4 separate regions of the Homo sapiens genome follow, and all the other regions are linked to region 1. The links come from fine-mapping of genetic effects on gene expression. A gene starts in region 1. Each other region holds a variant in brackets. All regions are shown on one strand. Distances are between the middles of the regions. Region 1 holds the start of FAM78B (family with sequence similarity 78 member B). Region 2 overlaps FAM78B (family with sequence similarity 78 member B). Region 3 overlaps FAM78B (family with sequence similarity 78 member B). Region 4 overlaps LOC112268276 (a long non-coding RNA gene).

What was found. PIP is the estimated chance that this variant, and not a neighbour inherited with it, causes the effect. A credible set is the group of variants that fine-mapping cannot tell apart.
Region 2: its variant is the best candidate, but not a certain one, in a credible set for the expression of FAM78B in whole blood (TOPMed, PIP 0.52).
Region 3: its variant is the best candidate, but not a certain one, in a credible set for the expression of FAM78B in blood mononuclear cells (TOPMed, PIP 0.69).
Region 4: its variant is the best candidate, but not a certain one, in a credible set for the expression of FAM78B in tibial artery (GTEx, PIP 0.72).

The regions. Positions count from the first base shown.
Region 1 is chr1:166,162,973-166,171,154 of GRCh38, reverse strand. It overlaps FAM78B (family with sequence similarity 78 member B), which reads left to right and starts at 4,154. Exons shown (of 2, transcript NM_001017961.5): 1 at 4,154-5,169. The coding sequence starts at 4,907. LOC112268276 (a long non-coding RNA gene) reads right to left here and starts at 5,278. Exons shown (of 3, transcript XR_002958633.2): 1 at 5,101-5,278. RefSeq lists enhancers at 900-979, 4,894-4,943, 5,044-5,213, 4,385-5,287 and silencers at 1,820-1,879, 3,914-4,403, 4,444-4,503.
Region 2 is chr1:166,137,723-166,145,904 of GRCh38, reverse strand. All of the region lies in intron 1 of FAM78B (family with sequence similarity 78 member B), which reads left to right. Among named protein-coding and RNA genes, the nearest start is that of MIR921, 13 kb to the left of the region's middle. RefSeq lists an enhancer at 7,794-7,963. The variant A/G (reference allele first, on the strand shown) is at 4,449.
Region 3 is chr1:166,065,722-166,073,903 of GRCh38, reverse strand. It overlaps FAM78B (family with sequence similarity 78 member B), which reads left to right. Exons shown (of 2, transcript NM_001017961.5): 2 at 3,141-4,605. The coding sequence ends at 3,663. Among named protein-coding and RNA genes, the nearest start is that of FAM78B-AS1, 11 kb to the left of the region's middle. RefSeq lists a silencer at 4,205-4,405. The variant A/G (reference allele first, on the strand shown) is at 4,299.
Region 4 is chr1:166,233,259-166,241,440 of GRCh38, reverse strand. All of the region lies in intron 1 of LOC112268276 (a long non-coding RNA gene), which reads right to left. Among named protein-coding and RNA genes, the nearest start is that of FAM78B, 70 kb to the right of the region's middle. The variant C/T (reference allele first, on the strand shown) is at 4,494.

The DNA of each region.
Region 1 (8,182 bases):
CTTGGTAGTCTGTTCTATAGTCTCTGAAAACCCTTGCCAAGGTCAACTAGAAAATAGGCCCTTGTGACCCAGAGTTTCTAAAAAGCTCACTTGACAAATTGAGTAATGAGTCAATCAAGAGGAAAAATAAAGTCAGAGATCACCCTGCTTCTGGAAGGACCGAGTCATCTACAGCTAAAGGAGTGGATTGTAAAGGGGACACAGAGGCCAACATCCTGGAGAGTGCACAGCACAGCTCTAACTCAGGGAACTGAGGAGCTCTGTCATGCCCAAGAACATCAGAAGCTTGAAGTACAAAGGATCATTTGTTCTGTGCCCTGAGAATGAACTCCAATGAAGTTATTCACAAGGAATGATTGTTGTCAAGGTCTTGTCATTGGAGCTTTCCCATTTTCGTGGTGTCTAGAACTGATAACCCTTGAGATCATGTATAGTGCTCGAAGACAAAGGGCATCACTTAACATCAAGGAGCCACATTAAGAAAAGAGTGGGGGGACAAAGAGGTACAGTGCAGAAAGAATTAGAATAAAAACATATGCTTGCTGCAGGTATTGAGACAGAGCTTATAGGGAAGCTTATAGGGAATGTCAAGGGTCCATGTCTGTGAATCATGTTACATTTTATTGGCATTCTACTAAATATGATGTATGGGAAATGTTGTATTGGATTTTTAAGAATACTTTTAGTCATTCAAATGTTTATTGAGCAGCACCTAGGTGCCACGCACTAGGCTGGGCAACAGGGCACGATGGTGCATTCTCTTGAGGAGTGAACAGCTTATTGGGAGAGACAAGTGTGAGCAAGGAACTGTGAAACAGCTTTAAAGGTGTTAATAGAAGCAAGGGACTTACCATGAGGAGACAGAAAGAGAAACTTAGAAGAGCAGCACAGAGAAACTGTTGCAAATTCTGGGGATTTCATTTGAGCTACAGATAGCCCTGCATTGGCATTTGCAGACTGAATATGCATGAATGATAAAAACCCCCAGTGAGTAATCCAAAAGGTCCCTGTCATGAGGTAATTTGCTGAGACACAAATTTGAATGGGGCTGCCAGGAGGCCAGAGTGTACTTGCCAGCCACTCAGCTAGTGAATGACCACTCCTAACACTGGCATTTGTGTCCCAGTACCACTTAGCTCTCCTTACTTTCTCATCGACATCCGCACAATAATTCTCATACTGTGATCAATTTTTTCTTCACAGAGTCAGGGAAATAGGGCGTTAATAAGGTAAAGATATAAGGTAATGAAGTAAGAAGTTTATTTTAATGGCAAAATTTATTTAAGTAGCTTTAGAAATTACTTTGGCCCCATATTCATAGAACCATTAAGAGTCTAAAAAGATTCTTTACATTTTTCAGCTACACTTTACCGTACTTTATGGTGGAAATTATATGCCATGATGACATTCATGATTTTGGAGACTCACCAAGGTCATGGATGAACCCTCTGAGAATGTCAAGGGTCCAAGTCCATGAATAATGTTACATTTTATTGGCTTTACTAAATATAACAAAATCTTATTTTAAGTTTGAAAAATAAGATATTCTTCCTTATGTGATTTCCCTATATTTTGGGAAAGGCTGCCATTCCCCTCCCCGTTTATGAAGGTTTAACATGTGTCACCAGAAGACAAAGGAGTTATTTATCCACAAAACTGCAGCCTGACAAGCAACTCAAATTAAGAAACATAACTACATTCCCCAATGAAATGCTTTCCTTTTGGTCTATTGCCTGGAACCTAATAACCACTGAAACTCAAACTCTGACCCCACCCTGCCCCCCAAATACCTCCAAGAACCTCGAACTTAACATGACATCACCCACAGTCCCAAGCTGCTTCCCCTTCTATCACCTTGTTCAGTTACCAAGTAAATACATTTACCTCCTAAGTGATTCTTAAATGCAAATGCAGCCAGGCCTCTCCAGCCCCACAGCACTGCCCCAAGCTAGCCGAGGGTCAAAGTATCTGTCATCACAATATTCTGAAACGCTGCCTCCTCTATTCTCTATATGGATGCAGAGTAATTTTTCTCAAAATGCATGGCTTGCCTTCATTGGCTTCCACTGAAGTTTAAGATAAGGTCCTATCAAGAGAAGACACTGGGCCCTACTAGAGGGTGAAGGGTAGGAGGAGGCAGAGGATAAAAAAAAAATACCTATTGGGTACTATCCTCATTACCAGGGTGATAAAATAATCTGTCCAACAAACCCCTATGACATGCAATTTACCTATATAACAAACCTGCACCTGTACCTCTGAACCTAAAAGTTAAAAAAATTATTCACCAAACCCAGTGATCAAGGTTAATAACACCAGTAAAAAGTCATATTGCTATCATGTACCCCTGACATAATGCAATGAGAAGGCACTTCATCTTCATGGTATTCATCCCCCAAATCCAAAACCCTGGTCTAATCATGAGGAAACATCAGATAAATGCAAATGAGGAACAATTCTACAGAATATCTGACCAGTCCTCTTTAAAAATGTCAAGGTCATGAAAAACAGAGAAAGACTGAGAAGCTGTCACAGATTGAGAAGAATAAGGAGATGTAATGACTAAATGCAACATCATATCTTGGATTAGATTCTAGAGAAAAAAAGACATTAGTGGAAAAACTAGTAAAATCAAAATAAAGTCTGTAGTCTTAATTTTAAAAAGAAAAAAGATATGGTCTATCAACAACCAATTGATTCTTGGACAGTGATTCTGATGCCCATGGTCGACACATAACACCTTGAGAAATGCCTTGACTGTGAGTTGTTTCTCCCCCTCAGTACAGGATGAGTTCTTTCATATCTCTATGCATTTTGCATTTGCCAAATGCTGGTCCTGTACTACTCATTCACCTTTCTCTTTTCAGTGAGACTCTACAGTCTGTCAGTATTCAATTTAAATGTCACTACTTGAGCAAAGTCACACGTAAATCTCTCAGTGGCCAGAGAGCCACTGAGTGGCTCTCTGACCACTGAGGGATTTACATGTGGCCAGAGATTTACATGTCTGGCCTTCCACGGCACTGGATACACAACCCCACTAAAGCAGGTGTCACAGTTTACTATAATAACTTGTTAACAGGTTTATTTTCTCCAGTGATCCATGTGCTCTTTTTCAACTTTGAATCCCTAGTACCTAGCACTATGTTTGGCTCCTGCCAGGCAGGCAGTCAGCCTTTGCTGAATGAAAGGACCAGTGATTGAGGTCTGTGGCTACACGGTAAAATGAGAGAGACGAGTCATCAAAGGGAAAAACTGCTTTTTTGTTAACTATAAAGTGAACCAAGGTGTCAGAACAGTTAAAACAAGGATGAAGAGTGCTTTTAGATCTCAATCAATTTTTAAATTACTCGTCACACCTGTCCTAGCTAAAGACTAACTCTAGCACCTCCTGCGGCCTGTTAGTCAGTATTTCACACTTGGGCAGCAGATCCAGCAAATGTTCAATGATCGCAGAAGAAATACTTAGAAGCTATTGGCTTTGAAAATAAAAATGTAAGAAGATGCCTAGTAAAAGCATCTGCTAAATATTCTTCCTGTTTGGCACATTAGACTGCAGTATCAGACACATGACCGTGGTCATACTGTACACAATGCCCAATGTCTGCCAAAACTCTGGCATATGAGAGACTTAGTGCTGGAGTACGGAGGGATTCTTCCGGTATCCCCACTACACACAGTGGTGGAAAGAAGAGCTTCCAGAACAAACCCAGTCAGGCAAAGAGGCAAATACACTGCATTTAGTAACGCTGCTGGAGCCCGCCCTTCACCCTTTCTGAAGGTAGGATACTAAAAGGGCTCAAGCCTAAATCTAATCCAACAAGCTATATTCTGAATAACGACCAATCTCTGATAAAGCTGTTCCCCTAACCCTTCTGCTGCCCGAAACACTCACTCTACAGCCCCTACTGGGCTACCGGGTTCCCCACTGGACTCTGGACAGCGCCGCGCCCTGCTCGGCCTCACCCACCCGGTGGCGCTTGGGCCCGCCCTAGTCCCCCACCCCCACCCCAGGGCACCACCTACCAGGGCCCCGCCCCGCCTCAGCCCCACGTGCGGGGCCCCACCCCGGCGCTAGCGGCCCTTTAAACACCCCCACCCTTACACATTACCCCCCCCCCACCCGGACGGCAGCCGAATAGGGACAAAACTCATGGCGTACAGCCAGTTTCCTCCGCGGAGCACGTCCTGTGCTGCTCCAGCCGTTGGGGCTCTCCACCCCGGGCCACAGCCTCCTGGCGCCCCCCGGGCCGAGGCAGCCGGGCCGAGGAGTGTCGGTGTGGTCCGGCTACGGGGCGGGGCCGGCGGGAGCTCCGGTCGCCGCCGCCGCCGCTGCTGCCTCCGCCTGCCTCTTGGGCCGCCCGCTCGCCCGCCGCTGGGTGCGCTGCACGCGGGGGGCAGCCGTGGTGCAGAGGTTCATGCAGCGGCGGCGGCGGCGGCGGCTGCTGCTGCTGCCGCCGCGGAGGCAGACAGACCGGGCGCTGCCACCGCCGCCCTCCCCCGGCTCCATGCCGCCGCCGCTGCCGCCTCCTCCTCTCCGGCGAGGGGCGGGGGGCTCCGGCCCGGGGTGGGCACCATTCCTCGCAGCGCCGCTCCCCTCCCTGCCCTCCGCCCGGGCGCTGGAGCCGGCGAGGGCACCCGCCGCCTCCTAGGAGTGCACCCTCCGCGCGCCCTGCCGGAGCGAGGGGGCGGGCGTGGGCGGACGTCGGGGCAGCGGGGACCCCGCGCGGCTGCAAGAGGAGGGGGCTTCCCCAAGGATGCCCGGCGGCTCCCCGCTCCTAGGTGCGAGCTGAGTCTGACCGGGAGCGAGCGGCGCGTCGCCATGCCGGCGTGACGGGCGCCCCCGGCTGCCCGCGCGGGCCCCCGCGCTGCCCCACGCCGCGCCGTGCCGGCACCGGGCTGCAGGATGGGCTGTATCCAAAGCATCACCTGCAAGGCGCGGATCCGGCGCGAGAACATCGTGGTGTACGATGTGTGCGCCACCATCGACCAGTGCCCCACGCGCATCGAGGAGACCTCGCCCATCGTCCTGCGCTACAAGACCCCCTACTTCAAAGCCTCCGCCCGCGTGGTCATGCCCCCCATCCCCCGCCACGAGACCTGGGTGGTGGGCTGGATTCAGGCGTGCAATCAGATGGAGTTCTTCAACACCTACAGCGACCTGGGCATGTAAGCGACTCGCCGCGCGGCACGGGAGCGGACTCTGGGCCCCCAGCTCTGCTTGCCACCTTGACCCCCCTCCCCAGCTCCTTCCTACTGCTGTCCCCATCGTCTTTCTAAACCTTCCTCCCGCCTCCTCTCCCACCTCCCTCCTCCCTACGCTTTTGTTTCAGTGACAGGGCGGGTGTAGGGAGGCTCCTTGCGAAGGCATTTTCTCGTGGTTTGCTTCTGACTTCCCAGAAACGCGAGGAGAAAGGTGCGGGGCGGGAAGAACGCGACAAGGAGGGTTCGAGAGGCGGAGGTGGGGATGGCTGGCGAGTGCCTGGCGAGTTTCAGGGCGCCGTCTGTGCTTTGTGGGGCTCCCCGGGAAGAGTTTGGGGGAAACCATAGAGGAGTGGAGTGGAGTGCCGGGGGCGCATGGGCTGTGCCGCGCGTCCTTTGGAGAAACCGGAGCGGGCTTGGAAGAGCAGGTCCCGGGCATCCGAGCGGGAGTTGGTAGTTCTGTCCTTGCCCTCGCGACTGTTGAAGTTTCGAACCCTTGTCCCCCGGGCCAGGGAGCCCGGAGGCGTTTCCGTCTGGAACCACAAGCCGGACACAGTTGCCTCTCTGTTTCCGCGCCCCCTGGACCAGTTCTGGTGGGGAGCTGGAAGGCACCGAGTGCGTCCCGGCCAAGAAGGGCGGATAGCCTTGTGCGAGCAGCGTTCGGCTGGCGCGGCGCGGGGTGTTTCTTATGCTAAAGGAAAGGATGGATCTCTTGTCTGTCTAGGGTCCTTACTTTTTAAAACTTTCCTAATTGCGGCACTGGAAGGGATTCCCCTGGCGCCCACCGCCGAATTCTATCGGCGAGCTGGGAGCTCTCCAACTTTCAGCAGCGCCGGTTGGTGCGCGCCGGGCTTGGCTGCTGCGGTGAAGACCAAGGATCGCCGCGGCTCCTCAACCGCCAGGGGCCGCAGGCTACGGGCGGTCGCGTCCGGGACTTTTATATTTACCAAATTTTCATAACTCCGCACCCGCCTCCTTTCAGAACTAGACTCTGAGCAGGTGGCAACGACAATAGCTAAAAGGTTTAGGGCCTGCCTTCTACCTGCTGTTACAATGTAGGTCTAGAACACCCTAATTAGCCAGTCTGCAGCCTACAGGGAAACCCTTTTTCTGGAAATTCAACCTCATTTCACTTATTAATCTAAAACTCTAGAGCTCCCAAGGTTCGTCTATTTAATATGGATATGGGGTGGGGGAGTTCCCATTTTAAAAGGTCAAACCATCTTTTTAGCAGCAGTTTGCAGGCTTTTTATTGCACTCTGAGAGCATGTCAGTTAACACTAGTCATAGGCGCTAAAAGAAATTTGACAGGTCGTTGTTTTCCTTTTTTCCTCCCAAAGATTTTGCACTTTTCTCTTTAAGCACAAAAGCTTAATCCTTGAGAAAACTCAATTCCTAGTGAAGAAATGTGAGGCCCAGTTTCCAATATGCCTCAGCACACTGTATTCTTCCAGAGAAGACAGCTAGATGTGAGAAATGGGGGATATTTTATTTGGGGCGAATCATGCCATTTAAAAACTGACATACCCTCAAAAGAATGATTATATGTGAACACATGTGTCTCTTAAAACTGCTTTTTAAAATAAATCCATTGTTTCCAGCCAAGTCAGAGAAAGCCACAGGCAGGGCAAGAGCCCTTCCTCTCATTTCCCTGGCCTCACCCTGATGGCAGTGGGTTGCTGGAGGACAGCAAGTGCTCCCCACAGCAGCCTGGGGCCCCTGGTAGAGGAAGCCAGGAGTGACTGTGCAGAAGCAGCCTCACTTTTCCCAAGACTGCACAGCGGAACTCTCTGTTGCCTCAAATCTCTTATGAATAAGTAAAAGCAAATATATAAATACAGAATTATTTCCGTAAAACTTACTTTACCTTAGGAGAAGTCAAGTTGAGATATAAACAGACATGGTAGTTGAACTTCCTGGAATCTATAGGGAAGGTATGTCCTCACTGGAACCAACTTTAATGGATATGAATCAGTGACAGGATTCCTGACCCTTCCCCACTGAATCCTTGCATTTGGGATTTGGAAAGTGGTTTTGTTTTTAAACTGCCACTTTTGATATTTTAAGATTCTTGGTTTTCATGTAGATGTAGGAGAGCAAAAATAGACCCCCAATAAATCATAAAGCATATTATTATAGATTTGTGTCCACAGTCTACCTGTTTCTTCATGGTTGCAATAATTGCTATGTGTTAAAGGCCACTTTGGAGCCCAAATTTGAATGAACCAATTTCCACAAGATATTTATGCCTGGAAAATTTTGCTAGTGTAAACTTTTTAATGGGAATTCATATTGCATGAAAGTTGCTGCAGTCTATTAGTTATTATGTCTACTTTAGCCAATATCTGGATTGTAAAAAATAGCATGGAGTGATTTTTCACCTCTGTGCAGTGTTCTGTCACATGAACCACAATATGGTGAAAGGGTTTGGATTAGAAAACTGCCTTTTCAATATTTTGAAAAGGATTGTGCCAGAGGAAATCCACAACATAAAATGGCAAGAAACTCCTGTTTACAGGATTGAAAGAAAGCCTGAGGTTTTGTGGTTTAAATTGTAAACTTTTCCAAGAAGGGGTAGGCTTCTAAAAGAACATTTGAAATAGTTGATGGCTATGATGGCCAGAGCTTAATTTGAACTTGAACTCATTTCCATGGCACTTCCTCGAATGATTCTATAGAAACCAGGCTGGTGAAGAGTTGTGGCACCTATTTATTTCTCATTTGGCCCTGGTGAATCTTGCTAGTGCAGCCTTGAACAGACTGCTGCAAGTCTTCATCCCTCGGGGAGGAAGGGCTCCTGACTCTCTCAATCAACCTGTCAATATACAAACATTTACCAAATGCTTCTGCTGTGCAGGCAGCAGCACCAAAGAAAAAGGAATATGCAGGCAGTTTTCACTGCTTCTCATTATAAGACGACAAATGCAGAGAAAAGCAGCGCTCTTTGGTGGTGTGGAAGAAATGCCTGAGAGCGCTGGCG
Region 2 (8,182 bases), 25 kb after region 1:
ATATATTTATTGTCCAAAGCCAGAAGGAGGAGACAAAAGACTAAAACAGTATCTTCTGACTCATTATCCAGTATTTGTTTACTTTACCACACTACTGGCCTTCAGGTTGTGAATTTAACATCAGTTTAATGTGCAGCCAACCAAGAAAAAGTGTTAGTCACCTTTCATTTGAAAAGCTTGCGTGGATGGGCTTCATTTGATGCCAAAAATGTGTCTGACTTGAGATTGTCTTTGATAAGTTACAGATCCAAGACTAGATGTTTTGCTGGATTTTTGCTAAGATAATGCATTGTGGCCTGTCTTAGAGTCCTAAAGCAGCTGGAAGAGAATTTTGGAAAACATCTGACTCATCCCTTCCCCTCCTCCATGCAACTGAGAGGCAGGCAAATATCCTGTACCTTGCAGGCCCTTACATCCTCCTCTTTGCCCATCAAAACGCCCTCTTTCCCTTTGAAAGCATGGGCAAAGTGCTGCTGACATGATGGCACCTGGTGCCAACCTACAGGATGCCCTAATGCACCCTGGGAACGTAGGCTTCAGGCAGGGAAGTGAGACAGGTGGAAGCACACCCAACATGTAAAATCTTGCTTTGGTACCATGTTTAGGAGGCACCTTTGACTTGCAAAGATAAACTTGATGGAAGCAGCTTTGATGGAAGAGGTGGAAGTCTGAGGCAGGGATGGTGATTCCTGCAGTGCTTGGCCTCCTTAGTTTGTGGATATCAGAAGCTGAGAGGGGTTCAGCTTTTTTGTCCCAGGGCCAACCAGTTGGTACAATCTTTACCATGACTGGAATAGACCTGACCCAAGTTGAGGGCATTTCCCCCATCCTCCCACCTGTCTTCTTTGGTGTGGTTTGAGATTCAAGGAACTGGGGACTGATGTATCCTTTAAAATGATAGTCAAGTCTGGTAGGTGGTGGTGAGTCCTCCCAACCCTCACCCCATCTCTGTCTTTTCCAAAGAAACCCCAAACTTCTCCCTTCCATGGACAGGAAATCAGAGGAGTGGGTTGCCTTTTTATGGAAAGATTGATGGGTTCACAGCAAAACCCCTGGGTGAGGTGCCATGGTAAAGAACAGAAAGGGGGTTTAAGTGGCAGGTCTCTCCTTCTTTTGTGGGCTCTATACCTTTGATGTGCTTTTCCCCTCTTGCAGCTGAAGATTTTTTGCCTTGAGGAAAGTTAGTTTACACCTTGTTGCTGGAGAAAATAGCTGAGGTTTGAGAGATAAACAGCCACCCACTCCCTGTCTGTCAAGAGCTAGTACAGTTTAAGATGAATGGGGACCTCACTCTGCCCCCCTTTCCGCCCACCCTGTTACTCTCTGATCCTTCCTGCTCCATCATGAGGACAACAACCAACCTCTTTCTCCCCATCCCTGTCTCCCACCTTTGGACAGAGACAGATCAGAGTTGAGCTAATCCTTTCAAAAATATTTAATGTTCATATGCCTTCCTTGCATAGAAGCAGTTTAAGGGTTCCTGTGATTCTGGATTTAAATCTGTCTCTTTCATTTCCTACAAATGTATTGCCATCTGTTGATTTCATTCCTGTGACACCCACATCAAGATCATTCATAAGGAAAATCGGGCCCATTTCTAGACCACCCCCCCACCACCACTCCCCAGCCTTACTCACAGCTCTCCCCAGTCCAAATGCCTGAGCAGGGATCTGTGAAAACGCTAACACACACACAACAGACTGACAGGAAATTTAGAGTTTGGCGTTCATCTCCTAAATAATTGAAGTGGGCACCCACCAAGCCCTTCATCCCTGGGAACCCTGGTCACTGGAACCACATTAATTTGGGCCCAGGAGTTCTCTGGTGCCTTTTGTCAGCTATTTTGGATGCGTCATCATTACTTACGCCTTAATAAAACCACCCTCCTTTTTTATTGTCATCAGATGTGTTAGCAGTTTGTATCTCATCTATCTGTCCTTCAGCTCCTAAGGACATTCTGGAGGAGGGACATTCCCTCCCCATCCTGCCCCCAACCCTCACACACACTGTGGTTCATAGGGTTTGGGTAAAGACTAAAAGAGTTGCTCCATGCGAAGTGTTTGGCACAGGGGCTCACGTGGTTAAGGGCTCAATGTATTGTCAGTTATGGTGTTTTAGTATATGCAGTTCTGTTGTTTAACCTCTTGATCTTTCTCAGATCTCTGCTTCCCTCTCCACCCCACTTCCTTAGAGCAACCCTCACTGCCTCTCACCTTCATTACTGCCATGGCCTCCCATCAGGACCCTCTTCCTCCTGGTTCCACATGCTTCCCCTCCACCACCTGTCCTCTGCACCACAGCCCGAGTAGGCAACTCAGAATAGAAAGCTGATAATATCACCCTCTCCTATTTAAAAGCCTCCTAAGGTTCCCCATTCCCTTCAAGATGAAATTTACACGCCTTAGCAAGTAATGCCAAGCCTCTGTTGGCCTGACCTTTCCTAGATAGGGAACCAGAAACATCTCTGAAACATCTCTGGCCTGTCTTCATCTGCCAGTCTCTCCTTGGCACTAGGGCAGAGCTACACCACATGGCATGTAGCTCCCAGCCGTGATACCTCTAGACTTTTGAATATGCTGTTCCCCAGCCAGGCTTACCCTCTCCTCTCCTAGAAGACACCTGTGCATCTCCCCAGAGCCCTCCCTGGCACCCTTCCCCCAGTCTGAATTAGGCCTCTTCCCTGCCACTGTCCCAGCCTCTACTATATATTAATAGTTAATACATTTGCAAATATTTTATGTTTTAACTCATTTAATCCTCACAACAACCCTATATTGGGTACTGTCATTATTATGGCTACTTAAAGATGAGGAAATTGAGACATAGAGAAATTACCTAATTTGCCCAACATCTCACAGCTCCTAAGAGCTGAGATTTGAACCCAAATGATCTGGCTCCAGAGTCTACACTCATAACCACTGGGCTCTATGGCCTCTTACACTACTGTACCATTGACCAAACCATGGCCCTCTCTGGACTGAGCTCCCTGAACTAAGAAACCATGTGCTGCTCATGTTTGCACCCTGTGCCCTGACACAGGGCAAGAGCACAATTCCTTCTTAATTAACCCTTCAACCCATTCATCCTTCTAGGCCTGTGGTATTCAGTAGATTTAAGACTAGCCCACTTTTTACGACCCATTACCCGTACATCATTTCATTTAAAAAGTGCCTAGAGGGCCTTTTATGTGCTACAGTGGTAAGGGTAAGAGACTTAGAAGACAAGGTTCCACCCTTGAGGAACTTATAATTTGGTTGAAGAGATAAAGATTATACCCAAACCTGAAGTAATGAAAATGATTCCTCAAATCACAAACGAAACCAGTTTCTTTGTTTTGTGGTCAATCCTCAAATAAAAATAGTCTTCCTCTTTTCCCACTTAGACCTCAAGATCCTTGAGGGGAGGAATCCCATTGTGCACCATACATATGTCAATGCCCAGTGCTCAGTAAGTGCTGGTGCTAATGCACCACTGACTCTGTCTGTGGACTTCAGGCTTCTGCTGCTGCCCCGTGTCCTAGCCTCAGCTGTGCAGTCTTCCCAGGCCTGGGTGGTAGCTGTCACCCAGAAGACTTAGGGCACAGGGAGAGTCTGGGAGAGTCTAGGTTGGAAGTAGATTTTTGGGTGCAGAGTCTCAAGCTGCAATAGACCCTAGTGGTTCAAGACACTAGAACCTCCTTTAAGTGCAGTCTAACCCTCCACTCCCCAATAATGGTTTTCCATTGCATAATGTCCCCTAGTGACCTGCCTGGGTATAGCTCTCCACAAGGCAGCTGTCCCTTCCATGCAGACTGTCCCAAGTCAGAGCAGGGCTGGTCACCATGCCACTCACCTTCACAGCCAGTCTGATCATTGAGGAGCTGTGCTCAGGGCAAGGACACCTGGGACCTCTCACAGGTGGCATGCCCTTCCAAGACCAGGAGAGAACACCACAACTTTGCAGGACCAGCATCTCTCAGCCTGCCTCCTCCCTTTCTCCATATCAATATGATATGGATGAGTACTCATCCAGCATTGGATGATATGGATGAATGGTCATCCATCCCAGAGCACTGTCCCTACTCCAGTTCCAGGGCACTCTTAGTCTGTTCTTGGCACATACAGCTTTGCATCTGTCAGTGTCCATGCAAAAGCCAACACAAGCTGTGATGGACTGTGCATTGGGTAGCCACCAGAGGTAACTGCCACTTATCTATCAGTCAGCCTTTGACAGGCCTCACATAGATACGTACCTCCCATCACCTCCAAGCTGGAATACACTTTACTCATCTGTAAAATGGGTATGAACATGCCTCCTTTGCAGAGCTTTTTTGAAGATTCTGCATTTACTAGTTTAACAACTGTTCAGTACCTATTATGGGCCTAGCTACCGGCACATAGTAAACACTCAGTTACAATAGCTTTAAGAAAATCTGTCTTAGACAAAGGAGTTTCAAAACTATGTGAAGA[A/G]TATACAAGAAGTAGTAGTCCAAACTGTTTTTTCAGTTGTTTAATGATCTCTATGATAAAGATGTTCAGGGAGAGGAATATCTTGCGTGATAACTGGAGTAAAACCCACTTAGATTTCTATGTCCCCAAACCTCTGGTGTGGTCAGGGTTGGCACCTGCCCTCTCAACCATTTGTCTCACTGTACATGCATCTTGTCTATGTCTTCCACTAGAGACCATGAGGGCAGAGATCAGACCTATGTACGTTGCACATTGCTGTCCCCAGTACCTAGCACAGCACCTTGCCCCAGTACGCACTTCATATATATTTCCTGGACTACGGCAGGTGAGCCCTTTGTGAGGGTTCCACCTGCCCACTGGCCTGGCCTTTAATGTCAGGGGAGCATTTCTGATATATTAATGCCCCTCTAATTGTGCTGCATTCGTTTACATAGGCAGTGCAGCAGCCTGGCTTTGGTGTTTAAAGACCGGATTGCAGTCAAAGCTCTGCTGTTTGCTGGCTATGAACTCCAAGTAAGTTGCCAGGTTCCTCTGAGCACTAATGATAATATTACCTGCCTCACAGGGTTGTTTTGAGAGCAGCTTCTGCTGCTGCCCCATGCCCCAGAATTATGGAAAACCATTTTGTAAACTTCAAGTCACTTCCTCTCCATAGTACAGATCAATGGTAGACCAGTGATCAGGGAGGATACAAATCATACCCCCAAAAAAGGCTTCTTTGTTGTATTTTGCCTCAAGTGTTTTCTTAGAGAACCTCAACAAACCACACTATTTTCTAGTAATCAGCCACTTATCCCACCATTTGCAGTAAGGAAAACTGAGGCACGCCTTGATGGCTTATTCAGCATCAGCAGCCTCACAAAAGACAGAAGTCTCCTTTGGATTAGCTTTATCATCTTTCCCTTAAGCAGAGATGATGGTGCCTTTCTCGCTGCTCTGGCTCAGTTAAGAAGTCAAGTCTGATTTATTGGTCATCCTAACTATCGTTTCCTGAAGGCCCGAAGCCCTGTAATGCTGTTGTCTGGCTTCCCAGATTTATGACCATGGTTTCTGGCCCCCAACAATATCTGGAGTTCGGTTTACATATTCACTTCCACCATCCAATCCAAATCCTCCCAGGCAGCAATCAAGCTGGGGCTGATTCCTCATCCATTTGTGGGCTCACTTTTTCTGGCAAGTCAGCCTTCATTCTCCAGGACGCTTAGAAGCCGCATGTTGGCGGTGGATTGTGCTACGGGAAAGAGTGAATGTGTAGCCTGCACATTTGAAGCCTTGCTGGGGTAGAGAGCAACGCTACTGCTCCTGGAATGTCCAGGCCACTGTTAGAAAGGCCATCTTATTCCTTAGAAGAGTCTAGCCCTGCTGCAGGCTTCAGAAACGTGTGCTCTAAGCTCGTTCCTGCTCATTTGAAGCAGTCTTCTGAAAAGGTCTGCAGAAACCTGCCTTTACCCTCTCCCTCATCCTGCGTGGCCTTTGTCACATCCTTCCTCCAAGGTTCCTCTGGTGGTGGTAGTAGGGAGGCTGCCACCTGGCTTTGCATGTGGGAAAGCCCAGCCTCTTCCCTCCAACCTCACAGCAGGACAGCCAAACTTGGATTTTTTCATGAGGAAGCAACTCTTATGAGCTCTCTGGTTCAGCTCTCTGGTTAAAAGACCATACTGTGCTGTTTCTGGGGCAGCACAGACCTGGTTGATCGTGTCCACAGGAAGAACAGCCTTTGGGATTCATTAGTCTGGTTAAGACCAGCCCTGCAGCCTCCTCTGCCAGCTATAGAACTATGTGTTAGAGTTGGTGCTGAAGCCAGTCACAAACCCATCCCAGATGCGTGTGGTCTTGTTGATGTTCAAATGCCACCTCCTCCTCCAGGAAGACTTCACCACCTCCCCAAGGCTGCCTTATGGGCTCCTTCTCTGTTCCCTCTCGACTCTGCCCCTCTATCACTATGGCCATTTTATAGAATTTTAATTATTGTCTCGGGTGTCTCCACTAGACTGTAAGTATCAAGTGTGTAGAGACTTTTGTTTCAACTCTGTATCCCCAAAATTCAGCATAGTTCATAGCACATACAGTACTCTCAATGCCTGTTGAATGAATAAAGAGTCTGCTTGCATGTAAAACTACAGTGGTTTGGTCTTGGAGACACTTGTTTTGGAATTCTTCTACTGATAGGGACAGCATCAAGATGATGGGAAATGTATTGGTCTGGGATTTGTTTTGCCTACAAAGTTTCTTATGTTGGCTCATCTCCAACTAGATAAAACCCTGAGTCTAGGCTTCCCCTTCTAACAAAGCTGCTATACCTTTATGGACCTCCATTTTCCTGTCTGTAAAATGAGAGTGTGGGCTAGCTAGAAAAATTTCTGGTGTCCCCCTTGCTGCTTTGTAATTCTGGAGTACGTTCGGAGAACACCCCAATGTGACAAAGGATCTGGAAATTCTTCATAAAATATTCAGGGAGGGAGACAACTCAGGGAACATGACAACTGTCTGGAATTATTTGAGGGGTTGTCATGTAGAAGATGAAAAGGATTAGATTATCTTGAAAGGCCCCACAGGTTATAAATAAGACCAATTATTAATTCATTCAACAAATATTTGAGTACCTGCCATGTGCAAGGCACTATTCTAAGCAATAATGATGCAGTAATGAATACAACAGACAAAAATCTTGTTGCCTTTATGGAGTTGACATTCTAGTGAACAGAAACAATTCAAAAACAAACACAATGGAGAGGAGCTTCTTGGACCCTCAAAACGAGCTGCCTGTGAACTATTGAGCTCTTTGTGTTCAGGAATACGTTTAGTACTTAGAAATCTGCTTCCAGTGGCTGCTTAGACTAAATGACCTTGTTAGGTTTTTTTAGCCCAGCAATCCCATGAATCTAAGGCTAGCGAAGATGTGTGATCTCTTTATTCTAACACCACTAAGCCAAATCATGACCTCCTCTCAATGGTAACTGTCACTCTAAAAAGAGAGATAAGGTAGATGCAGTGGGCTGTTCTTATGAAAAGGCACCTAAAAAATAGTACTTTAGAAACATGCATTGTGGTGGGGGTCTGGGTGGAGGGGTTGCTTTTTCTTGAGATCCCTGTGATATTGAGGATGAAGAAAGAGAAACACAGGGGGTGGGCAACTTCCTTGAAGGACCAGAGAGAGTGAGTCATGAGGAAGAGAAGGAGGAGACAGAGAACAGGAGAGTTGGGGATGAAGCCTTTGATGAGGGGAGTGAGGAGGGGCAGAAGTAGGAGACAGACATGAGGAAACCACCAACTGAAGTCCCAGAAACCCAGCCTCCGTCCCCTCTAGGTCCTACTGCCGTCATCCTCTTTCTGTAAAGGTGAGAGTCTAGGTGCAGTGTCCCAGGTTCCAAACACAAGTTCATACTCATTGACTAGTGGGATGCCCACTGTGAGAGCAGGAAGGAGGGCTAGAGAGATCTAAGAGGGCAGAAGCCCTGCCCTGCCAGTATTTTTTGCCTCCAGCCACCTGCTCTGTTCTGAGACATGCCTGAGACCAGCTGCCTACAGGGGGACCAGGGTCTGTTTCTGCTGTTAACCTTGGTTCCCTCCTGCATTCCTGCATGTGGGGATGTAGACAGGAAGCCTGCAGGTATGGAGCAATTGAAGCAGAGTCTAGATAGAGCCCAGACTCCTTACTTCCCATAGTACTATTCTGCATTTTGTAGTGCTGCTTATGCTTTTCAGTGTTTCCACATCTATTTACTAATAACATC
Region 3 (8,182 bases), 97 kb after region 1:
GGATGCAGTGATACAGTCACTGTGGCAGCCTAGGGGAGGGTGTGGAAAGAGCCAAAGATGGCCCTTACTTCTGACCTTGAAGATTGGGTGAGCAGTGGGCCACCCCTTGCAGAGAGACAGGGGAAGACGGCTTGGTTTATGGTGGAAATGATGAGTTCAGTTTGAGCCATATGGAGTTTGAAATGCCTCTGGCATTCCATTCAAAGTAATCCCCTTAAATGGTCATTGAGTGACTCAAATAGTGCTACTGTTCTTGGAACTTTTCAGAGACTTCTCGAAAAACCATTACCAAAGACATTTTATCAGCTACATAAACTAGTCATGCATTTTATAGACACAACTCTCCTTTTGGAAAAAAAAAAAAAAAGAGAGAAAGAGAAAGGAAGGGAGCGAGAGATAGAGAGAGGGAAGAAGGGAAGGTCACTGCCTTGGGGTGTACATTAGTATCTATTTTTCATAAAGGAAAAATTTGATATTTTTCAGATAGCAACTCCCTATTCACTAGACTTAAATCGTAATGAATTTTGGCTGTTTCCAAAATCAAACCATCCCTTAATGATGTAGTCCTAATTCCCTAGGGCTATGGAAGAGAACATGCCTCTGACCTGAGGAATTCCCAAAAGCACAGTTGCAGAAGTAACAACAGTGTGGATGGAACTAAAGTGTAACCTCCAATGTCACTATTCCCAATGACTACATGTGGCCAGATGTGTTTGTTCTGATGTGATGATTAAGAAGCCTGTTGTATTTCTCTGTTCCAGAAACTCCTCCAAGAAAAGGGTATTTTCCTTCCCTCCTGAGATAGCCACAAGAGTGTGTCTTTATTGTATTATCTCTGTTTTTTGTTGTTTTGTTGTTGTTGTTTTTCAAAAAACCTAGGACCAAACTAAGTTTTATGATTTGTCTTACAAGGCTGACTTGCAGACCCTGGGCCCAAGTCTCTGCTCACACAGCTCTGGGCAGGAAGATGGGAGGCAAAAATATGAGAACTATAAAGACTCTATAGACAAAGCAAGATAGCCTGAAAAGGACTGTGTTGTAACAGAATAAAAAGTACATCCACTCAAAACCAAATTCCCCAGGCAATACGCCACAGTAAGCCCTGTGTGTAGCGGGGGAGAGCAAGAACAGTCTGCCACTGCTCGGAATACCTGCCCTCCAATTCTAAGAAGGAACTCAAAGGCCAGCAGGGACTGGTCACAGCCAAAGTGTAAAACAAGATTTAGGCAACACAGGAAATAGATGTATTGTGACTGAAGAATTGTCTTAGCCCTTTGCTTGGGGGCATGAAACCGACTCCAGTATGGTTATTTCATGAACCCAATGAGCAGATTGGATCTCTGCACAACCTCTGACCCACTCAAAGAACATGTACTCCCTTTTGTACAGTAAGAAATGGCATAGAATTACCTGGGAGCTACTACCCCCCAGCTGCAAAAGCATATGTAGCAAAATGAGCTCTCTCTGACTTTCTGCATCAGGTCAATTCCTTACTTAGTGTCTGCCAACCATGATACACTGCAGCTATTCCCAGCAGTTACCAAGGGCATGACAAGAAAAAAGGCTCTTGCAGCTGTGGGGTCACCTCCTCCCCAGGCAGCCAAGCCCTCCCTTCACTTCAGGCTGGGGCTGACTGGCCTAGGAGGTACTGTAGGGGGTCAGTAGGAGGCAGTGGTTAGTGTCTCCATGTCCCCATGTGATAGTAAGGGTGCTGAGATGTTAATCAGCACTAGCTTGACAATGCAATTCCCTTTAAGACAACTTGTATAAAACCCTGCAGGATCTTCTGTCACCTCATAGGAGGAAGAACTTTATGTCAAAGAAGACCACTGCCTCTTAGCTGATGAATAAAGCAGTCTCATCTCTTTAATTATTAAATTCTAGTGCATTATTACCAAGCATCATCCCTGGTACCCGGAGCGAAAATATGGAGCATGCATCAACACTCTGCTGACTAGACTTCTGCCCTTACTGGGGTCCAGTCCAGTTCTCCATGACTGACTGGTCTTGGAGCTGCTAACTCATTAGACAGCCTGAGTCCTCTCCATTCTAACTCCCTCCAGCGCTGTGTAAGGGTACTTTGGGAGGCAGTATGATACAGTGGCCAAAACCAGGGACTTTGAAGTCAGACAACTCTCAGCTTCACCTCTTGGAATCTTTAGGACCTTTGTCATGTACCTTAACATCTTTAAGCCTTCATCCCCTTGTGTGTAAAATGGAAATAAAAATGTATTTATCTTGTGGAGTATTTTGAATACTGACTGAGATAATGTACTTAGCACAATGGTTGTAATAGAGTAACACTCAATAAGTATCAGCAATTATTATTAGCAACAGTCTACAGCAGGGGGTAGAGACATTGGTTCCTCCTCCTCCTCCTCCTGTACAAGGTCAGAGACAGCCAGGAGGAGTAGGTAGGTGCCAGAATGGCAAGTTTGCCAAACTAAGCTGTGAGGCTTCCAGGCTGGACTGGAAGGCAATGGGAGAGCGGTGCATTAGAGTGTATGCCAGCCTGTAGAACAACTTTCACATTCAGATGGTTTCCAGAAGATGACCATGATTTTCTCATGTTATGATTTTCTATGCCTAAGCGATGAATTGGCTGATGCCTAGAATTTAAACAACCCTCTTTGTTAAGTAGAAATTCTATTACTATGATTTCCTAAGAAATTAATATAACCTTTAACTTTGCCTCCTTTTGCCCTTCTTTCCACCAGATACTGCCTTCCAAGTACATCGAATTTCAACCATCATTTCTTCCCAAAAAGCAAACCTTATTCACATTCATATTTCCAAGAAAGTGGTTCTTGTAATGGAATTCCTCTAAACTGCTGATTACCATCATCTAACTAGTTGATGTCTCTTTGTGGTCTCACAACTGCCTTTTTGAGCTTCCTGTTCTCAATTGGGTCAGCCATGGTTGTATTTAACTTGTTTTGGCATGGCTTTGTTATTTTTATTTTGGTTTGTTCTCATTTAATCCTGAAACAGCACAGCATAGAACTTTTTGCCCTGAATTCCCCCTGTGAACTTCCCATTTTGCCCAAGTTGACTATGTTAGTAAGCAGTGAGCACCTCTCCAGCTTTTGAAAAATTCATTCAGCCTCTTCTTTTCTTGTGCATGTCTTCTGCTTTGCCAGGTCAAGCTGGGAACTGCCTGACTTGAGGGAAGGGAGAGTAAAAGCCATCAGTGACTCAGATGGGGTGAGCTACCCTTGGTACGGGAACACCACAGAAACTGTGACCCTGGTTGGCCCCACCAACAAGATCTCCAGGTTCTCCGTCAGCATGAATGACAACTTCTACCCCAGTGTGACATGGGCAGTGCCTGTGAGTGACAGCAATGTGCCACTGCTCACAAGAATCAAGAGAGACCAAAGTTTCACGACCTGGCTGGTGGCCATGAACACCACCACAAAGGAGAAGATCATTCTGCAGACCATCAAGTGGAGGATGAGGGTGGACATTGAAGTGGACCCTCTTCAGCTCTTGGGGCAGCGGGCCCGGCTGGTGGGCAGGACTCAGCAGGAGCAGCCCCGGATCCTGAGCCGGATGGAACCCATCCCCCCTAATGCACTAGTGAAACCCAATGCCAATGATGCCCAGGTCCTCATGTGGAGGCCCAAGCGGGGGCCACCTCTGGTTGTGATCCCTCCTAAGTAGAAGCAGACTGGCCTGACTGTGTGTGGATCACACGCCTCTGAGACATGCAGTGAGGGTGCCAGGGGTGGCAGGAGCCAAACAGAGTTTCTGAGCCAAAGCAGACCTCTCGGTTTGCCAGCCTTTGCAGCCACTTTTGAAGAGTAGGGCTGCTCCTTGGGTGGTAGAACCATAATCCTTAGGAAAAATCCCTTCCTCTTAGGAATAAAGAAATCACTGATTTGACAGACTTGCTGTGATTACCATGCAAGTAGCCATATTTTGGAGCTGACCAGGATGATTCTTTTATCTGAACTATTGACCATTTCTTTCCTGTGAGATGCAGGGGATGGAAACGAAATTAAACAGTGCCTGTGGCAAATGCTGCTTCCCAGCCAATTAGAAGTAGGAGTGAAAACATCCACACCAGGTGGTCGTAAGACAGACTCCTGCTGTCTGACTGGAGGGTGCTGGGGAAATGGGTGGTGAAAGAATGGGTGATGGGGAGAGGAAAGAATAAGGTTTTATGACACATTAATACTTCTGCATTTATTAGTTGATAATCAGATCAACACACTCAATGGAATGAATGCTTAGAAAACTAGACAAATACTGATATTTGCTCCTTTCTGAGGGAGAAAGCCTCCTTGGAACTGTCC[A/G]AGGTGCTGATGTGAACTAACGGAAACACTTCATTAGTTCCGTCTACCCACCTCTTTCCAAAAAGATTGCTTATTCAGAGTATTTTTAATCACAGTATTTGGCTTTGTAATTCCCACATTCTGCAATAGTTATGATATTTGGGGCCCTGTCCATGTTTTAGTGAAATCCTAACTAACTTGATTTTGTTTACAGCTGCTTATTCTGTTCCCATGATTAGCCCTAAATTTATATTTAAAAAGTTATGAGCCATGAATCCATGTAAGGTTCAAGAACATTTCAGCAAATAAGAACAGCATTTTCATTCTGTTTCTTTTGAGTTTCTGAATGATCTGAACATATGGAATGGACACGTGTATGCATAGACACACACACACACATGCACACATGCACACATGATGCATATAGCATAATTACTAGCATATTTGCCACCAGTGCCTACATATCTACCTGTAGCCTTTCTATGTACATACGCTGTATATTTTTATATATATTTATTTTAGCTCTATTTCACAGAAGCTCAAACTTGAACATTTGTGAGAAACTACTTCCTAAGGCTTAACTTAACTTTAGAGCTCTTCAAAGAAAATCTAAGCTACTCATGTTAAGCAAGCCTGTATTGCTAAGATTTAACCAGTAAAGATGAGAGGCCAGGTTTCCTTTAGTCAGGCCAATATACAACTTCTTTTTGAGGGTTTCCAGTCTTTAAGTGAGGATTTTTGCAGTTCTAGCTTGAATCACCCTTCCTCCCCCACCTCAAAAAAAGAGCTTTTCCCTTTATTCTCAATAATTCAACCATATATATGGTTGTATATATATTTGCTTGTTCACCACCCCCTTCCATGCAAACTAATTATAAAACTTTCACATTGTCATTGTGGATTTAAGAAGTAGACACTGCTAGCTTAATTTCAGAGGGAGAAATTTGAAGTTCAGAGCAGTTTTACAATCTCATGGTTGGCTCCAAAGAGCTGTCTTCTACTAGAGTTTGTGGATAGAGAATAAAAAGCAGCAGGGTTTATTACTTTTATTAAAAATTCAATTTAGTCTAATTTATTTCAGATTCTAGTCCCAGGGGATGGTACTTACTTACATAAGAGTGCTAAGAGATCTGCTCCAAATTATGTAGTGTTAACTTCACACCCCAACCATCAACTACTCTGTTATAGATTAGTTATTGATGGCAAGTTATTTATAACAACACATTAATAATACATCAGTGGCTCACAGAGGACCTGGAGACATTCATTTAGAAATAATTCAGCTGTTATGTTTGGCATTCTCTGTCCCTTCCCATGTTTCCTTGTTTTATTTGGGAAAGGCAGTCCCAGAGAGCTCCATGGCTAAAGTACAAAGCAGCTTATTTTCCATGCTGACACCACAGGCAGCACTCTCTCCCCCAGACTGAATTAGACTCCACCCCTATGGGATCCTGGGGAGTGGATACTGACCCTAGAATCTAATCCATGTGGCCCCACTTTAAGAAAACCTGGTATTTTAAACTCCAAAGTTGTAACAAACAACAGATTAATTAGAATTTACATTACAAAATGCTATACAAGATTTATGTTTGCAAATTCCCCTAGTGCATTAAAATAAGATATGACTTACACAACTATATTTACAAATAACTTTTTCAGAAGCTTATCTATATATCTAAAGCAAGGTGTAGCATACTTAGCTAGGCTTGTTTCCCATGAAAAATCACAGTTTTTCAGAGTTTTAAAAGAAATTACCCCCACAGCAGTTTTCTGGGAAGTTGTATAATGACAAAATGAAAAAAATGGGAAAGTGCTTATGAAAGTTAAAAGCACTGTATACATTGTGATTATTGTTATTGGTACCATTGTGAACTCTACAGTTGGGTGTCTCAGCTCTGAAGTCAGCCTGGCAGAATGCTCTATTGCCCTTTAGCCAATTATTTTCAAGTTACTGTTGTTTTACAAGGAAATGACCCCTTTTCTTCCTGTGATTTGTGGATCATTATCTTTCAGCTTAGTCAGGATATTGCCAAATGAAAGTCTCTTGTACAAGAGAGAATTAACCTTGAAATCTCTGTTGAGGTCACCTCTGCCCTCCCATCCAGCCCTCCTTCCCCTCAAAATGCCTGGGCCTGACGCCAGATGCCATCAGTTTAAAGGGGCTCATTTAGTGCCTTGATTAAGTTTTAGTTGGGTGGTCTCAGGACTTAGACACACACACAACACATGGCTTCTTGGTGGCACTAGAGTTTTGAATTACGTAGGAAAAAGCATTTCATCAGGCCTTAAGTTTTCTTAATCAGGTCCTTTGAGATCTTTTAGTCCATGATCCCGAAGGAATTTGAGGCCTCGTTAAATTAGGTCATCTATTCAGAATGGTATACCTAGCCAGCTGAAGAGCCAAGAGAAGGCCCCATCTCCCAAATTTCATCTCACAACATGGTAACACTTAGCTAGAACTCACAGCCTCTTGTCTCCAACCAAAACATTATCATCATCCCTAATCCATTCACCCACAAACCAATGAGTCTAAAACTAGAGACAATTGGATCCGTCCTTTAAAGAACAAGAGGAAATCCTTGTTACTATTATGTAAAAGAAAATTTGAATGTTCCAGATTCCCTTTATCTGTGACAGCTGTTTTGAGGTTGAACCCTTAATATGGGCCCTTCGCTGCATGCAGTTTACATTCCTGGGTCATTGCTGTAGCTCACATACCTAGCCAACTGAAGAGCCAAGCACATCTCCCGAATCTCATCTCACATGAGATGGGGGCACATGAGAGAGTTGGAGACTAGTCCCCTACCCACCTCCCATTCTGTGGACCTTTTTACAACTCCCTGTTTCCTGGTGCTGGAATGATAATCTCATAGGTCAAAAGCATGTACTAAGCAGCAATTCTGATCAGTAAAATAAAAGAACTATGATTTATAGAGTATTTTTACAAAAGCCTTCCACATGCATTTTCTCATCCCCAGTCTTACGAGTGTAATACTGATGAGTAGTATTATTCCCATTTTCAGATAATAAATTGAGACCAAAGAGGTTAAGTGGCATATCCATGAGTACACAAACAAAATGTCAGGAGCCAGGATTGAAATGGGGCCTTTTGGCTCCAACTTCCATGCCCTTCCACTATCCTGTTCTGCCTCTCCTGTTCATCCCTGACTAGAGGGCACAAAAGAAAAGGAAGGAAAGGAGAAAGCTAGTCCCTTTCATCTACACTGTCATGTAGTCTCTCCCAATCTATTAAATGGACATACTAAACATAGGAGAACAAACACTGCTTTCTTATGCAAAGAAACCCTTTGGGAGGTTATCCCAGAATATAATGCCTGACAGGGGCTGCAGTGTGGGTGAGCTAGCTGTCACTCAGCAGCTCTTAGCAGAGTACTTAGTAATTGGAGTAGGAAATCTGCTCTCCTGGCATCAGAATCCTTTAAGCACCACAAGGCCAAAAAGGGGAAGGAAAGCATGCATCCTGCAACTGAGGTCCCAGCTGAACAAGGCCCTGCCACCCGCCGTCCCTCAACATGGCAGGAGCAGCCTTTGGGGTGTGAGCAGTGGAAACAATGGCTTTCCAAGCCCTGGTTAGCACATTGAACGTGCTTGTTAGAACTGAGGGCACAATTAAACATTGCAAGAGCCAGCTCCCAACTGAGTTGCAAAGAAAGATGTAAACACACACACATACAGAGACCTGCCACACTCACATACTCTTCAAACTGAAAAGAAAATTAATCAAAAACCCAATGAATGCCTGAACTCTATAATTAAGCCTAAATGATCCTTAGATAGAAAGGGAGCTGAGTGAGCAAGCTCTGTGCACACAGATATTTTTACCCCAGAGTCTTATTGCCATTAATTTCTTTTGAGATCTTGAGTACATCTGGTTCCAGTTTCCC
Region 4 (8,182 bases), 70 kb before region 1:
ATCCTAAGCAAAAAGAACAAAGCTGGAGGCATCATGGTACCTGACTTCAAACTATACTACAAGACTACAGTAACCAAAACAGCATGGTACTGGTACCAAAACAGAGATATAAACCAATGGAACAGAACAGAGCCCTCAGAAATAATGCCACATATCTGTAACTATCTGATCTTTGACAAACCTGACAAAAACAAGAAATGGGGAAAGGATTCCCTATTTAATAAATGGTGCTGGGAAAACTGGCTAGCTACATGTAGAAAGCTGAAACTGGATCCCTTCTTTACACCTTATACAAAAATTAATTCAAGGTGGATTAAAGACTTAAATGTTACATCTAAAACCATAAAAACCCTAGAAGAAAACCTAGGCAATACCATTGAGGACATAGGCATGGGCAAGGACTTCATGTTTAAAACACCAAAAGCAATGGCAACAAAAGCCAAAATTGACAAATGGGATCTAATTAAACTAAAGAGCTTCTGCACAGCAAAAGAAACTACCATCAGAGTGAACAGGCAACCTACAGAATGGGAGAAAATTTTTGCAACCTACTCATCTGACAAAGGGCTAATATCCAGAATCTACAATGAACTCAAACAAATTTACAAGAAAAAAACAAAGAACCCCATCAAAAAGTGGGCGAAGGACATGAACAGACACTTCTCTAAAGAAGACATTTATGCAGCCAAAGGACACGTGAAAAAATGCTCATCATCAATGGCAATCAGAGAAATGCAAATCAAACCCACAATGAGATACCATCTCACACCAGTTAGAATGGCAATCATTAAAAAGTCAGGAAACCACAGGTGCTGGAGAGGATGTGGAGAAATGGGAACATTTTTACACTGTTGGTGTGACTGTAAACTAGTTCAACCATTGTGGAAGTCAGTGTGGCGATTCCTCAAGGATCTAGAACTAGAAATACCATTTGACCCAGCCATCCCATTGCTGAGTATATACCCAAAGGACTATAAATCATGCTGCTATAAAGACACATGCACACGTATGTTTATTGCGGCACTATTCACAATAGCAAAGACTTGGAACCAACCCAAATGTCCAACAATGATAGACTGGATAAATAAATGTGGCACATATACACCATGGAATACTATGCAGCCATAAAAAATGATGAGTTCATGTCCTTTGTAGGGACATGGATGAAATTGGAAATCATCATTCTCAGTAAACTATCGCAAGGACAAAAAACCAAACACCGCATGTTCTCACTCATAGATGGGAATTCAACAATGAGAACACATGGACACAGGAAGGGGAACATCACACTCTGGGGACTGTTGTGGGGTGGGAGGAGGGGGGAGGGATAGCATTAGGAGATATACCTAATGCTAAATGACGAGTTAATGGATGCAGCACACCAGCATGGCACATGTATACATATGTAACTAACCTGCACATTGTGCACATGTATCCTAAATCTTAAAGTATAATAATAAAAAAAAGTTAAAAAAAAAAAAAAGAAAATGTGGCTCATATACACCATGGAATACTGTGCAGCCATAAAAAATGATGAGTTCATGTCCTTTGTAGGGACATGGATGAAACTGGAAACCATCATTCTCAGCAAACTATCACAAGGACAAAAAACCAAACACCACATGTTCTCACTCATAGGTGGGAATTGAACAATGAGAACACATGGACACAGGAAGGGGAACATCACACACCAGGGACAGTTGTGGGGTGGGGGGAGGGGGGAGGGATAGCATTAGGAGATATACCTAATGCTAAATGACGAGTTAATGGGTGCAGCACACCAACATGGCACATGTATACATATGTAACAAACCTGCACGCTGTGCACATGTACCCTAAAACTTAAAGTATAATAATAATAAAATTTTAAAAAAAGCAAAAACAAAAAAAGAAGCAAATGTATATAAAGAACTCTTGAATCTCAACAATAAAAAAAAACTGCCCAATTAAAAATGGGCAGAAGACAAATAAACACTCATCAAAGATATATGGATGGAAAATAAGCATATAAAAAGATGCCCAACATTACACGTCATTAGGGAATTGCAAATTAAAACAACAATGAGGTATCACCTATTAGAATCACAAAATCTAAAACACTGACAACACCAAATACTGGTGAGGATATGGAACATCAGGAACTTTTATTGCTTGGTGGGAATGAAATATGGCACAGTTACATTGGAGACAATTAGTTTCTTACAAGGCTAAACATACATTTATCACACAATCCAGCAACCATGCTTCTTAGAATTTACCCAAGTTAAGTGGAAAACTTATGTCCATGCAAAAACCTGTGCAAATATTTATGTCAGCTTTATTTATAATGAACAAAACTTGGAAGTATCTAGGATGTCCTTCAGTAGGTGAATGGATAAACAAACTGTGGTATATCCAAGTGATAATTATTTGAGTCCTTAAAAGAAACTAGCTATCAAGTCTGAAAAGACATGAAGGAAACTTAAATGTATATCACTAAGTGAAAGGAGCCAATTTTAAAAGGCTATATACTGTATGATTCCAACCATGTAACTGTCTGAAAAATGCAAAACCACAAAGACAGTAAAAGGATCAGTAGTTGTCAGGGGTCTAGGGGGAAGGAGGGATGAATAGGGGACTTTTAGGGCAATTATTCTGTATGATGACAAAAATGGTTGGATACATTATCATACCTGTCAAAACCCATAGAAAGCACAATATCAAGAGTGAAACCTAATGTAAACTATGGATGTTGGGTGATAATAATGTGTCAATGCAGCTTTATTAATTGTAGTATATGCACCACTCATTGCAGGATGCTGATAGTGGGGAGGCTGCATATAAGTGGAGGTGGGAGATATATGACAACTCTCTGTACTTTCCACTGAATTTTTCTGTGAACCTAAAACTGCTCTAAAAAAATAAAGTTTATTTTTAAAAAATGGAAATTAGAGTTATAAAGTATAATAACTAAAATTTAAAATTCACTAATGGTTCTCAAAAGTAGATTTCAGCTGACTAAAAAAATCAGTAAACCTGAAGATAAGCCAATAGAGATTAAGAATATTACAGAATAGAAGGTTGGGGGCGAAGTACTTTAAAAAAAGGAACAGAACTTCAGAGAAAGGTGGGACATCAATGAGAACACCAGCATACCTGTACTGTAAGTACCAAAAGAAGAGGAAAGAAAGGAACGGAAAAAATATTCAAAAATGTAATAGCTGAAAATTCCCCAAATTTAATGTAAAACATTAATCTACACATCTAAGTTCAATGAACTTCAAGTAGAATTACACAAGGAGACCCACACTCAGACACATCATAGTTAAACTATTGAAAGAAAATAAATCTTGAAAGCTGCATGAGAAAAATGACTCATCACATAAAAGGGAATCCCAGGAAAATAACAACAGACATATCATCAGAAACAATGGAGGCCAGAAGGCAGTGAGGAGATATATTCAAAGTACTAAAAGAAAAAAGAACTGTCAAACAAGAATTCTACATCCAGCAAACTTACCTTTCAAAAATGAAAGTGAGGAGTAGAGTCGAGATGACTGACTAGACACAGTAGTACATGCCTCCACCATGGAGAGGAGCCAAAATAGTAAGTAGATACTCACAGTTCAAACAAGGCATCCAGGAGAGAATGTTCAGATTTTCCAGAGGAGAGACAGGAAGCACTAAAAGTAAGTAAAGAGAGGGTTTGAGGCACCTTGCCCATCTGGGAACTGACTGATAGCCAGAAGAGGCTCCTGAATGTGGGGAAACAGAGAGAAACCCCCAGGGCTGCTAAATGGGTTTTTATGATTTTGGCTATGGAAGAAACCCTCAACCTACTAGGACCTCAGGCCTGACACAAAGAGCCACCTAAAGATTGCAGAGATACTTCTCCAGAAAGGGAACCCCACACAGAATTCCACAGGCATTTGATCCTCGAGCCACTTCAGTTGGGAGCCATTCTGAGAGCCTAGACATGAGGGATCTGCAGGCATGGCTGCTGCCACTGCACTGCTTTAAGGCGAAAAGGGCAGGGGAGTCCAGCTGCTCCCACACACCTTTGAGAGGGTCTCTGCCACCCTGCTGTGGTCTGCTATTGAGACTGAGATGTGAGAAGACTGCACAACCTCACAGCTTCTTGCCCATGCTGCTGCTTGCCTGGGAGGGACCCTGTCCTCTCAGGGTACCAGGCTCAAGGCACCATTTTGAGACTTTAATGCTAAGCTGCACCTTTCCCTTTGGCCTGGGTCAGGATGATGTGGCTGCAACTGATGCCCAGCCAAGGAGGGACAGGGATACCAGGCTATCCTACATATATCTAGAACAATACCCACTGCCCTGCAATGGGCTGCTGTGAGACTGGGCTGTGAGTGGGTCACACTCTGCTCAGCACCTTGCCTGTGCTGTCTGCCTGGGAGGGGTCCCGCCTTCCCTGATGGTAGGCCCAAGGTGCCATTTTGAGAGTTTAACACTGGGCTGCACCCCATTCTTGGGCCAAATTTCAGTTAATGTGG[C/T]TGCACCTGCCACCCCATCAAGGAGGGATGGGAAAGCCAGGCTCTCCTATGCGTACCTAGGACAATACTCAACATCTTGCTATGAACTGCTGTGAAACTGAAACTCAAGTAGACCACACAGCTTCTTGCCCATGCTGCTCACCTGAGCAAGGTCTCTCCCTCTCTGGTCACAAGCCCATTGCTGGCACCATTTTGAGAGTTTGACAAGGCGCTGTGCCCAGCACTTAGGCTGAGTTTGAGGTGATGTGGCTACAGTAGCCACCCAGCTGGGGAAGAGACAGGGGAGACCAAGCTCTCCTAAGCACACTTAGGACAATACAGACTCCCCTGCTAGAGGTGTCTATGGGACTGTAGACTAACCCACTGAACTCATCCCAGCTTCCAGGAACACCAACAAAAACCACTTGGGTCCCAGTGGGTTGCTCCACCACTGCTACTGCCATCACCCACACAACATCAGCTGCTCAGGGGCCTGAGAGCAAACTCACACACCTGGCCCACCTCTCCCACCACTAGCTTCTAAGCAAAACACCTGAAGGCCCAAGAATCAGCCCTCCAAGACTCATTAACACTAGAAGCAGTGTAAGCTGCTCTGGGGCCTAAAAACAGGCACGCTCACCTTACTGCTGCCACCACGGGGGCCCAAACAAAGACTGGCTCAATTGGCATTCAAGTCCCCAGCTAAACTTCACAAAAACTCAACTAATAATTGTACCTTAAGACACCAAGGAAATGACAGAGACCACTAACCCTGCATACTTCCAGAGATGTCATACACAAAGATCACACTACAACAGGCACCCAAAATCAAAGCCAAAGTATCCTAATCAACAACATACATCCTCAAGAAAAAATTCTCCCCTACAAAAGCAATTTCAATAACTTGAGGGGGTTGGGCCCAAATTGTGGACTAGAAACAGCTCATGTGTGCTGCTTTCGTAGGGAGAAAGCATAAGGGCTAGGGAACACTGTCCCTGCAGGCCGATCATCTGAGAAATCATGTCAGGACCTGTCAAGGCAGCAGGGGCACATAGAGGACAGTGAGGGGTGAAGCTGGGCACCAGCCTGTCTGGGCTCAGCATGGAGCCAGGAGAACCTCTCCAACATGGGAAAGGGTTAGTAAGTGACAGCCCCCAGGGGGATTCACACCCTACACAGGGATTTGTGTAAGACTAGGAATAGGAGAATCCCCCTGGCCACTCTGCACCTCCCCACATTGTGCTTTAAGACTGAGGCAGAGAGTTACCCAGATGTTTTGCGGGGGCAACTCTGAAGTCCAACGGGATCATTAAAAGCCTTGGGCCCTGGAGCAGACCAGTACCAGTGCCATAGCCCCAATAGAGGCTGCAGTTGTGGTGCCTGGGAGCAGTAAGATTGTTCCACCACCCCCCTCCCCTTGCAAGATGGGGCTGGCAGCTTCTCACCCAGCAGTCTGGCCACTCCACCCACCCATACCACAGGTAGCCCAGGCAGGCAGTACCTGCTAGAGCTGCAGGCACAGTGGTATTGCTTCTGTGTGAACTCACCTGCAGAGTGCATCTTCCTGTTGTCCCTGGAAACTTGGAAACACCTGGACAGCAGGGTGGGCAACCCTGCCCAACTCTGCCTCTCATAGCCAGATAGGCTACACCTGCTAGAGCTTTCAGCCTAGCAGTCCTGCTTGTGCCTGAACTCTGCAGGCAGGTTCAACCCCATGTTTCCTGAGGAAGCACACAGACAGCATATTAGGACCAATTCAGCAAGGATACAGAGGGAGCCCCATGGACCAGAACACCCAACAAAAGCGTGGACATGGAGATAGTAATCAGAGGAGGCTCCTCCAAAATGCAGAAGTGGACTAGAATTGAAGCCGGTCAATCAAACCCACCTATACCATAATCAAACCCCAAAGGGCATCAAATTAGATAAAAACAAAAAAAAATCAAAAGGACTGGGACTTCAATGATTGAAGGACCATCAGCCCACACAGACAGGAAATAACCAGTGCAAGGACTCTGGAAACTCAAAAAGCCAGAGTGTCTTCTGACCTCCAAACAATTACACTAATTCTCCAGCAATGATTCTCAAGCTTGCTGAAGTGAAAAAACAGAATTCACAATATGCATCAGAAGGAAGATCAACATTCAGGAGAAAGTTGAAATCCAACCCAAGGATTGTAAGATATACAATAAAATAAAACAGGAGATGAAAGATGAAATGTCTGTTTTAAGAAAGAACCAAACTGAACTAATAGAACTGAAAAACTCACTTCAAATGCTAAGGGCCAAGACGGCCACATAGAAACAGCTGTGGTGTGGTACTCACAGAGAGGAGCAAAAGGGATGAGTGAATACAGAACCTTCAACTGAAATATCCAGGTACTCACAGTGGGACTGATCAGGAAAACAACTGGACCCACAGAAAATGGAGAAAAGCAGGGAAGGGCAACAGCCCACTCGGGAGTAACGTGGAGCCAAGGGAACCCCCACCCACAGCCAGGGGAATTGGTGAGTTAATGTGTGAACCCAGGAAACCATGCTTCTCCCACAGATCTTTGCAACCCTCAGATCAAGAGATCCCCTCATGAGCCCACACCACCAGGGCCTTGAGCCTGAGACAGAGCTGTGTGGAATCTCAGCAGAGCAGCTGCTCAGGCATGCAGAGACCCAGGAGCTTTACATACCCTGGCCCCGATATCCCCAGCAAGGTGGGAGGTCTGTATGTACATACCTCTAAAAAGGGGGCTGAATCCAGGGGGCCAAGCAGCATCCGTTTGCAGGCCCCACTTCCACTGCACCTCACAAGATGAGACTTACTAGCTTGGAATTCCAAGCAGCCACCGGCAACAGGGTGGATGGAGCCTGCCTGAGACAGGATGGAGCCCCCGGGGGGAGAAGTGGGCTGTGATTTTTGTTGTTTGGTTGACTCAGCCATTCCAGCCTGCAGGCTTTGGAGAGTCCAAGCAGTCCAGATGAGGAAGGGTCCCCCAAGCTCAGCACAGCTGCTTTGCCAGAATGTGTCCAGATTGCTTCTTTAAACGAGACCCCATCCATTCCTCCTCACTGGGTGGGACCTCCCAGCCGGGGCAGCCTCAAGCACCCCCACTCTCCCATATTCTATAGACAGAGCTCTGATCTCTCCCTAGGGGAGAGTGTGTGGTGGGAGGGCTGGGCCACCACCTTGGTTATTGGGACAACTCAGCAATTCCAGCCTATGGGCTTTGGAGAGTCCAAGCCAACAAGGGCAGAGCTGGTTCCGCAGCAAGGCATGGCTGTTTTGTCGAGATGTGGCCTGACTGATTCTTTAAATGGGACCTGGATCTTGCATTCTAATTTGATGATGCTATGATCTGAGACACTGTTTGTTATTATTTCAGTTCTTTTGCATTTGCTGAGGAGTGTTTTACTTCCAATTATGTCATCAGTTTTAGATTAAGTTCCATGTGGTGATGAGAAGAATGTATATTCTATTGGTTTTGGGTGAAGAGTTCTGTAGATATCTATCAGGTCCACTTGATCCAGAGCTGAATTCAGGTCCTAGATAACTTTGTTAATTTTCTGTCTCAATGATCTGTCTAATATTGTCAGAAGGGTGTTGAAGTCTCCCACTATTATTGTGTGGGAGTCTACATCTCTTTGAAGAGCCTCCAGCCACCCTCACCCATATTCCACAGCTAACAGCATTCTAATTTCTCCTTGGGATGGAGTGCC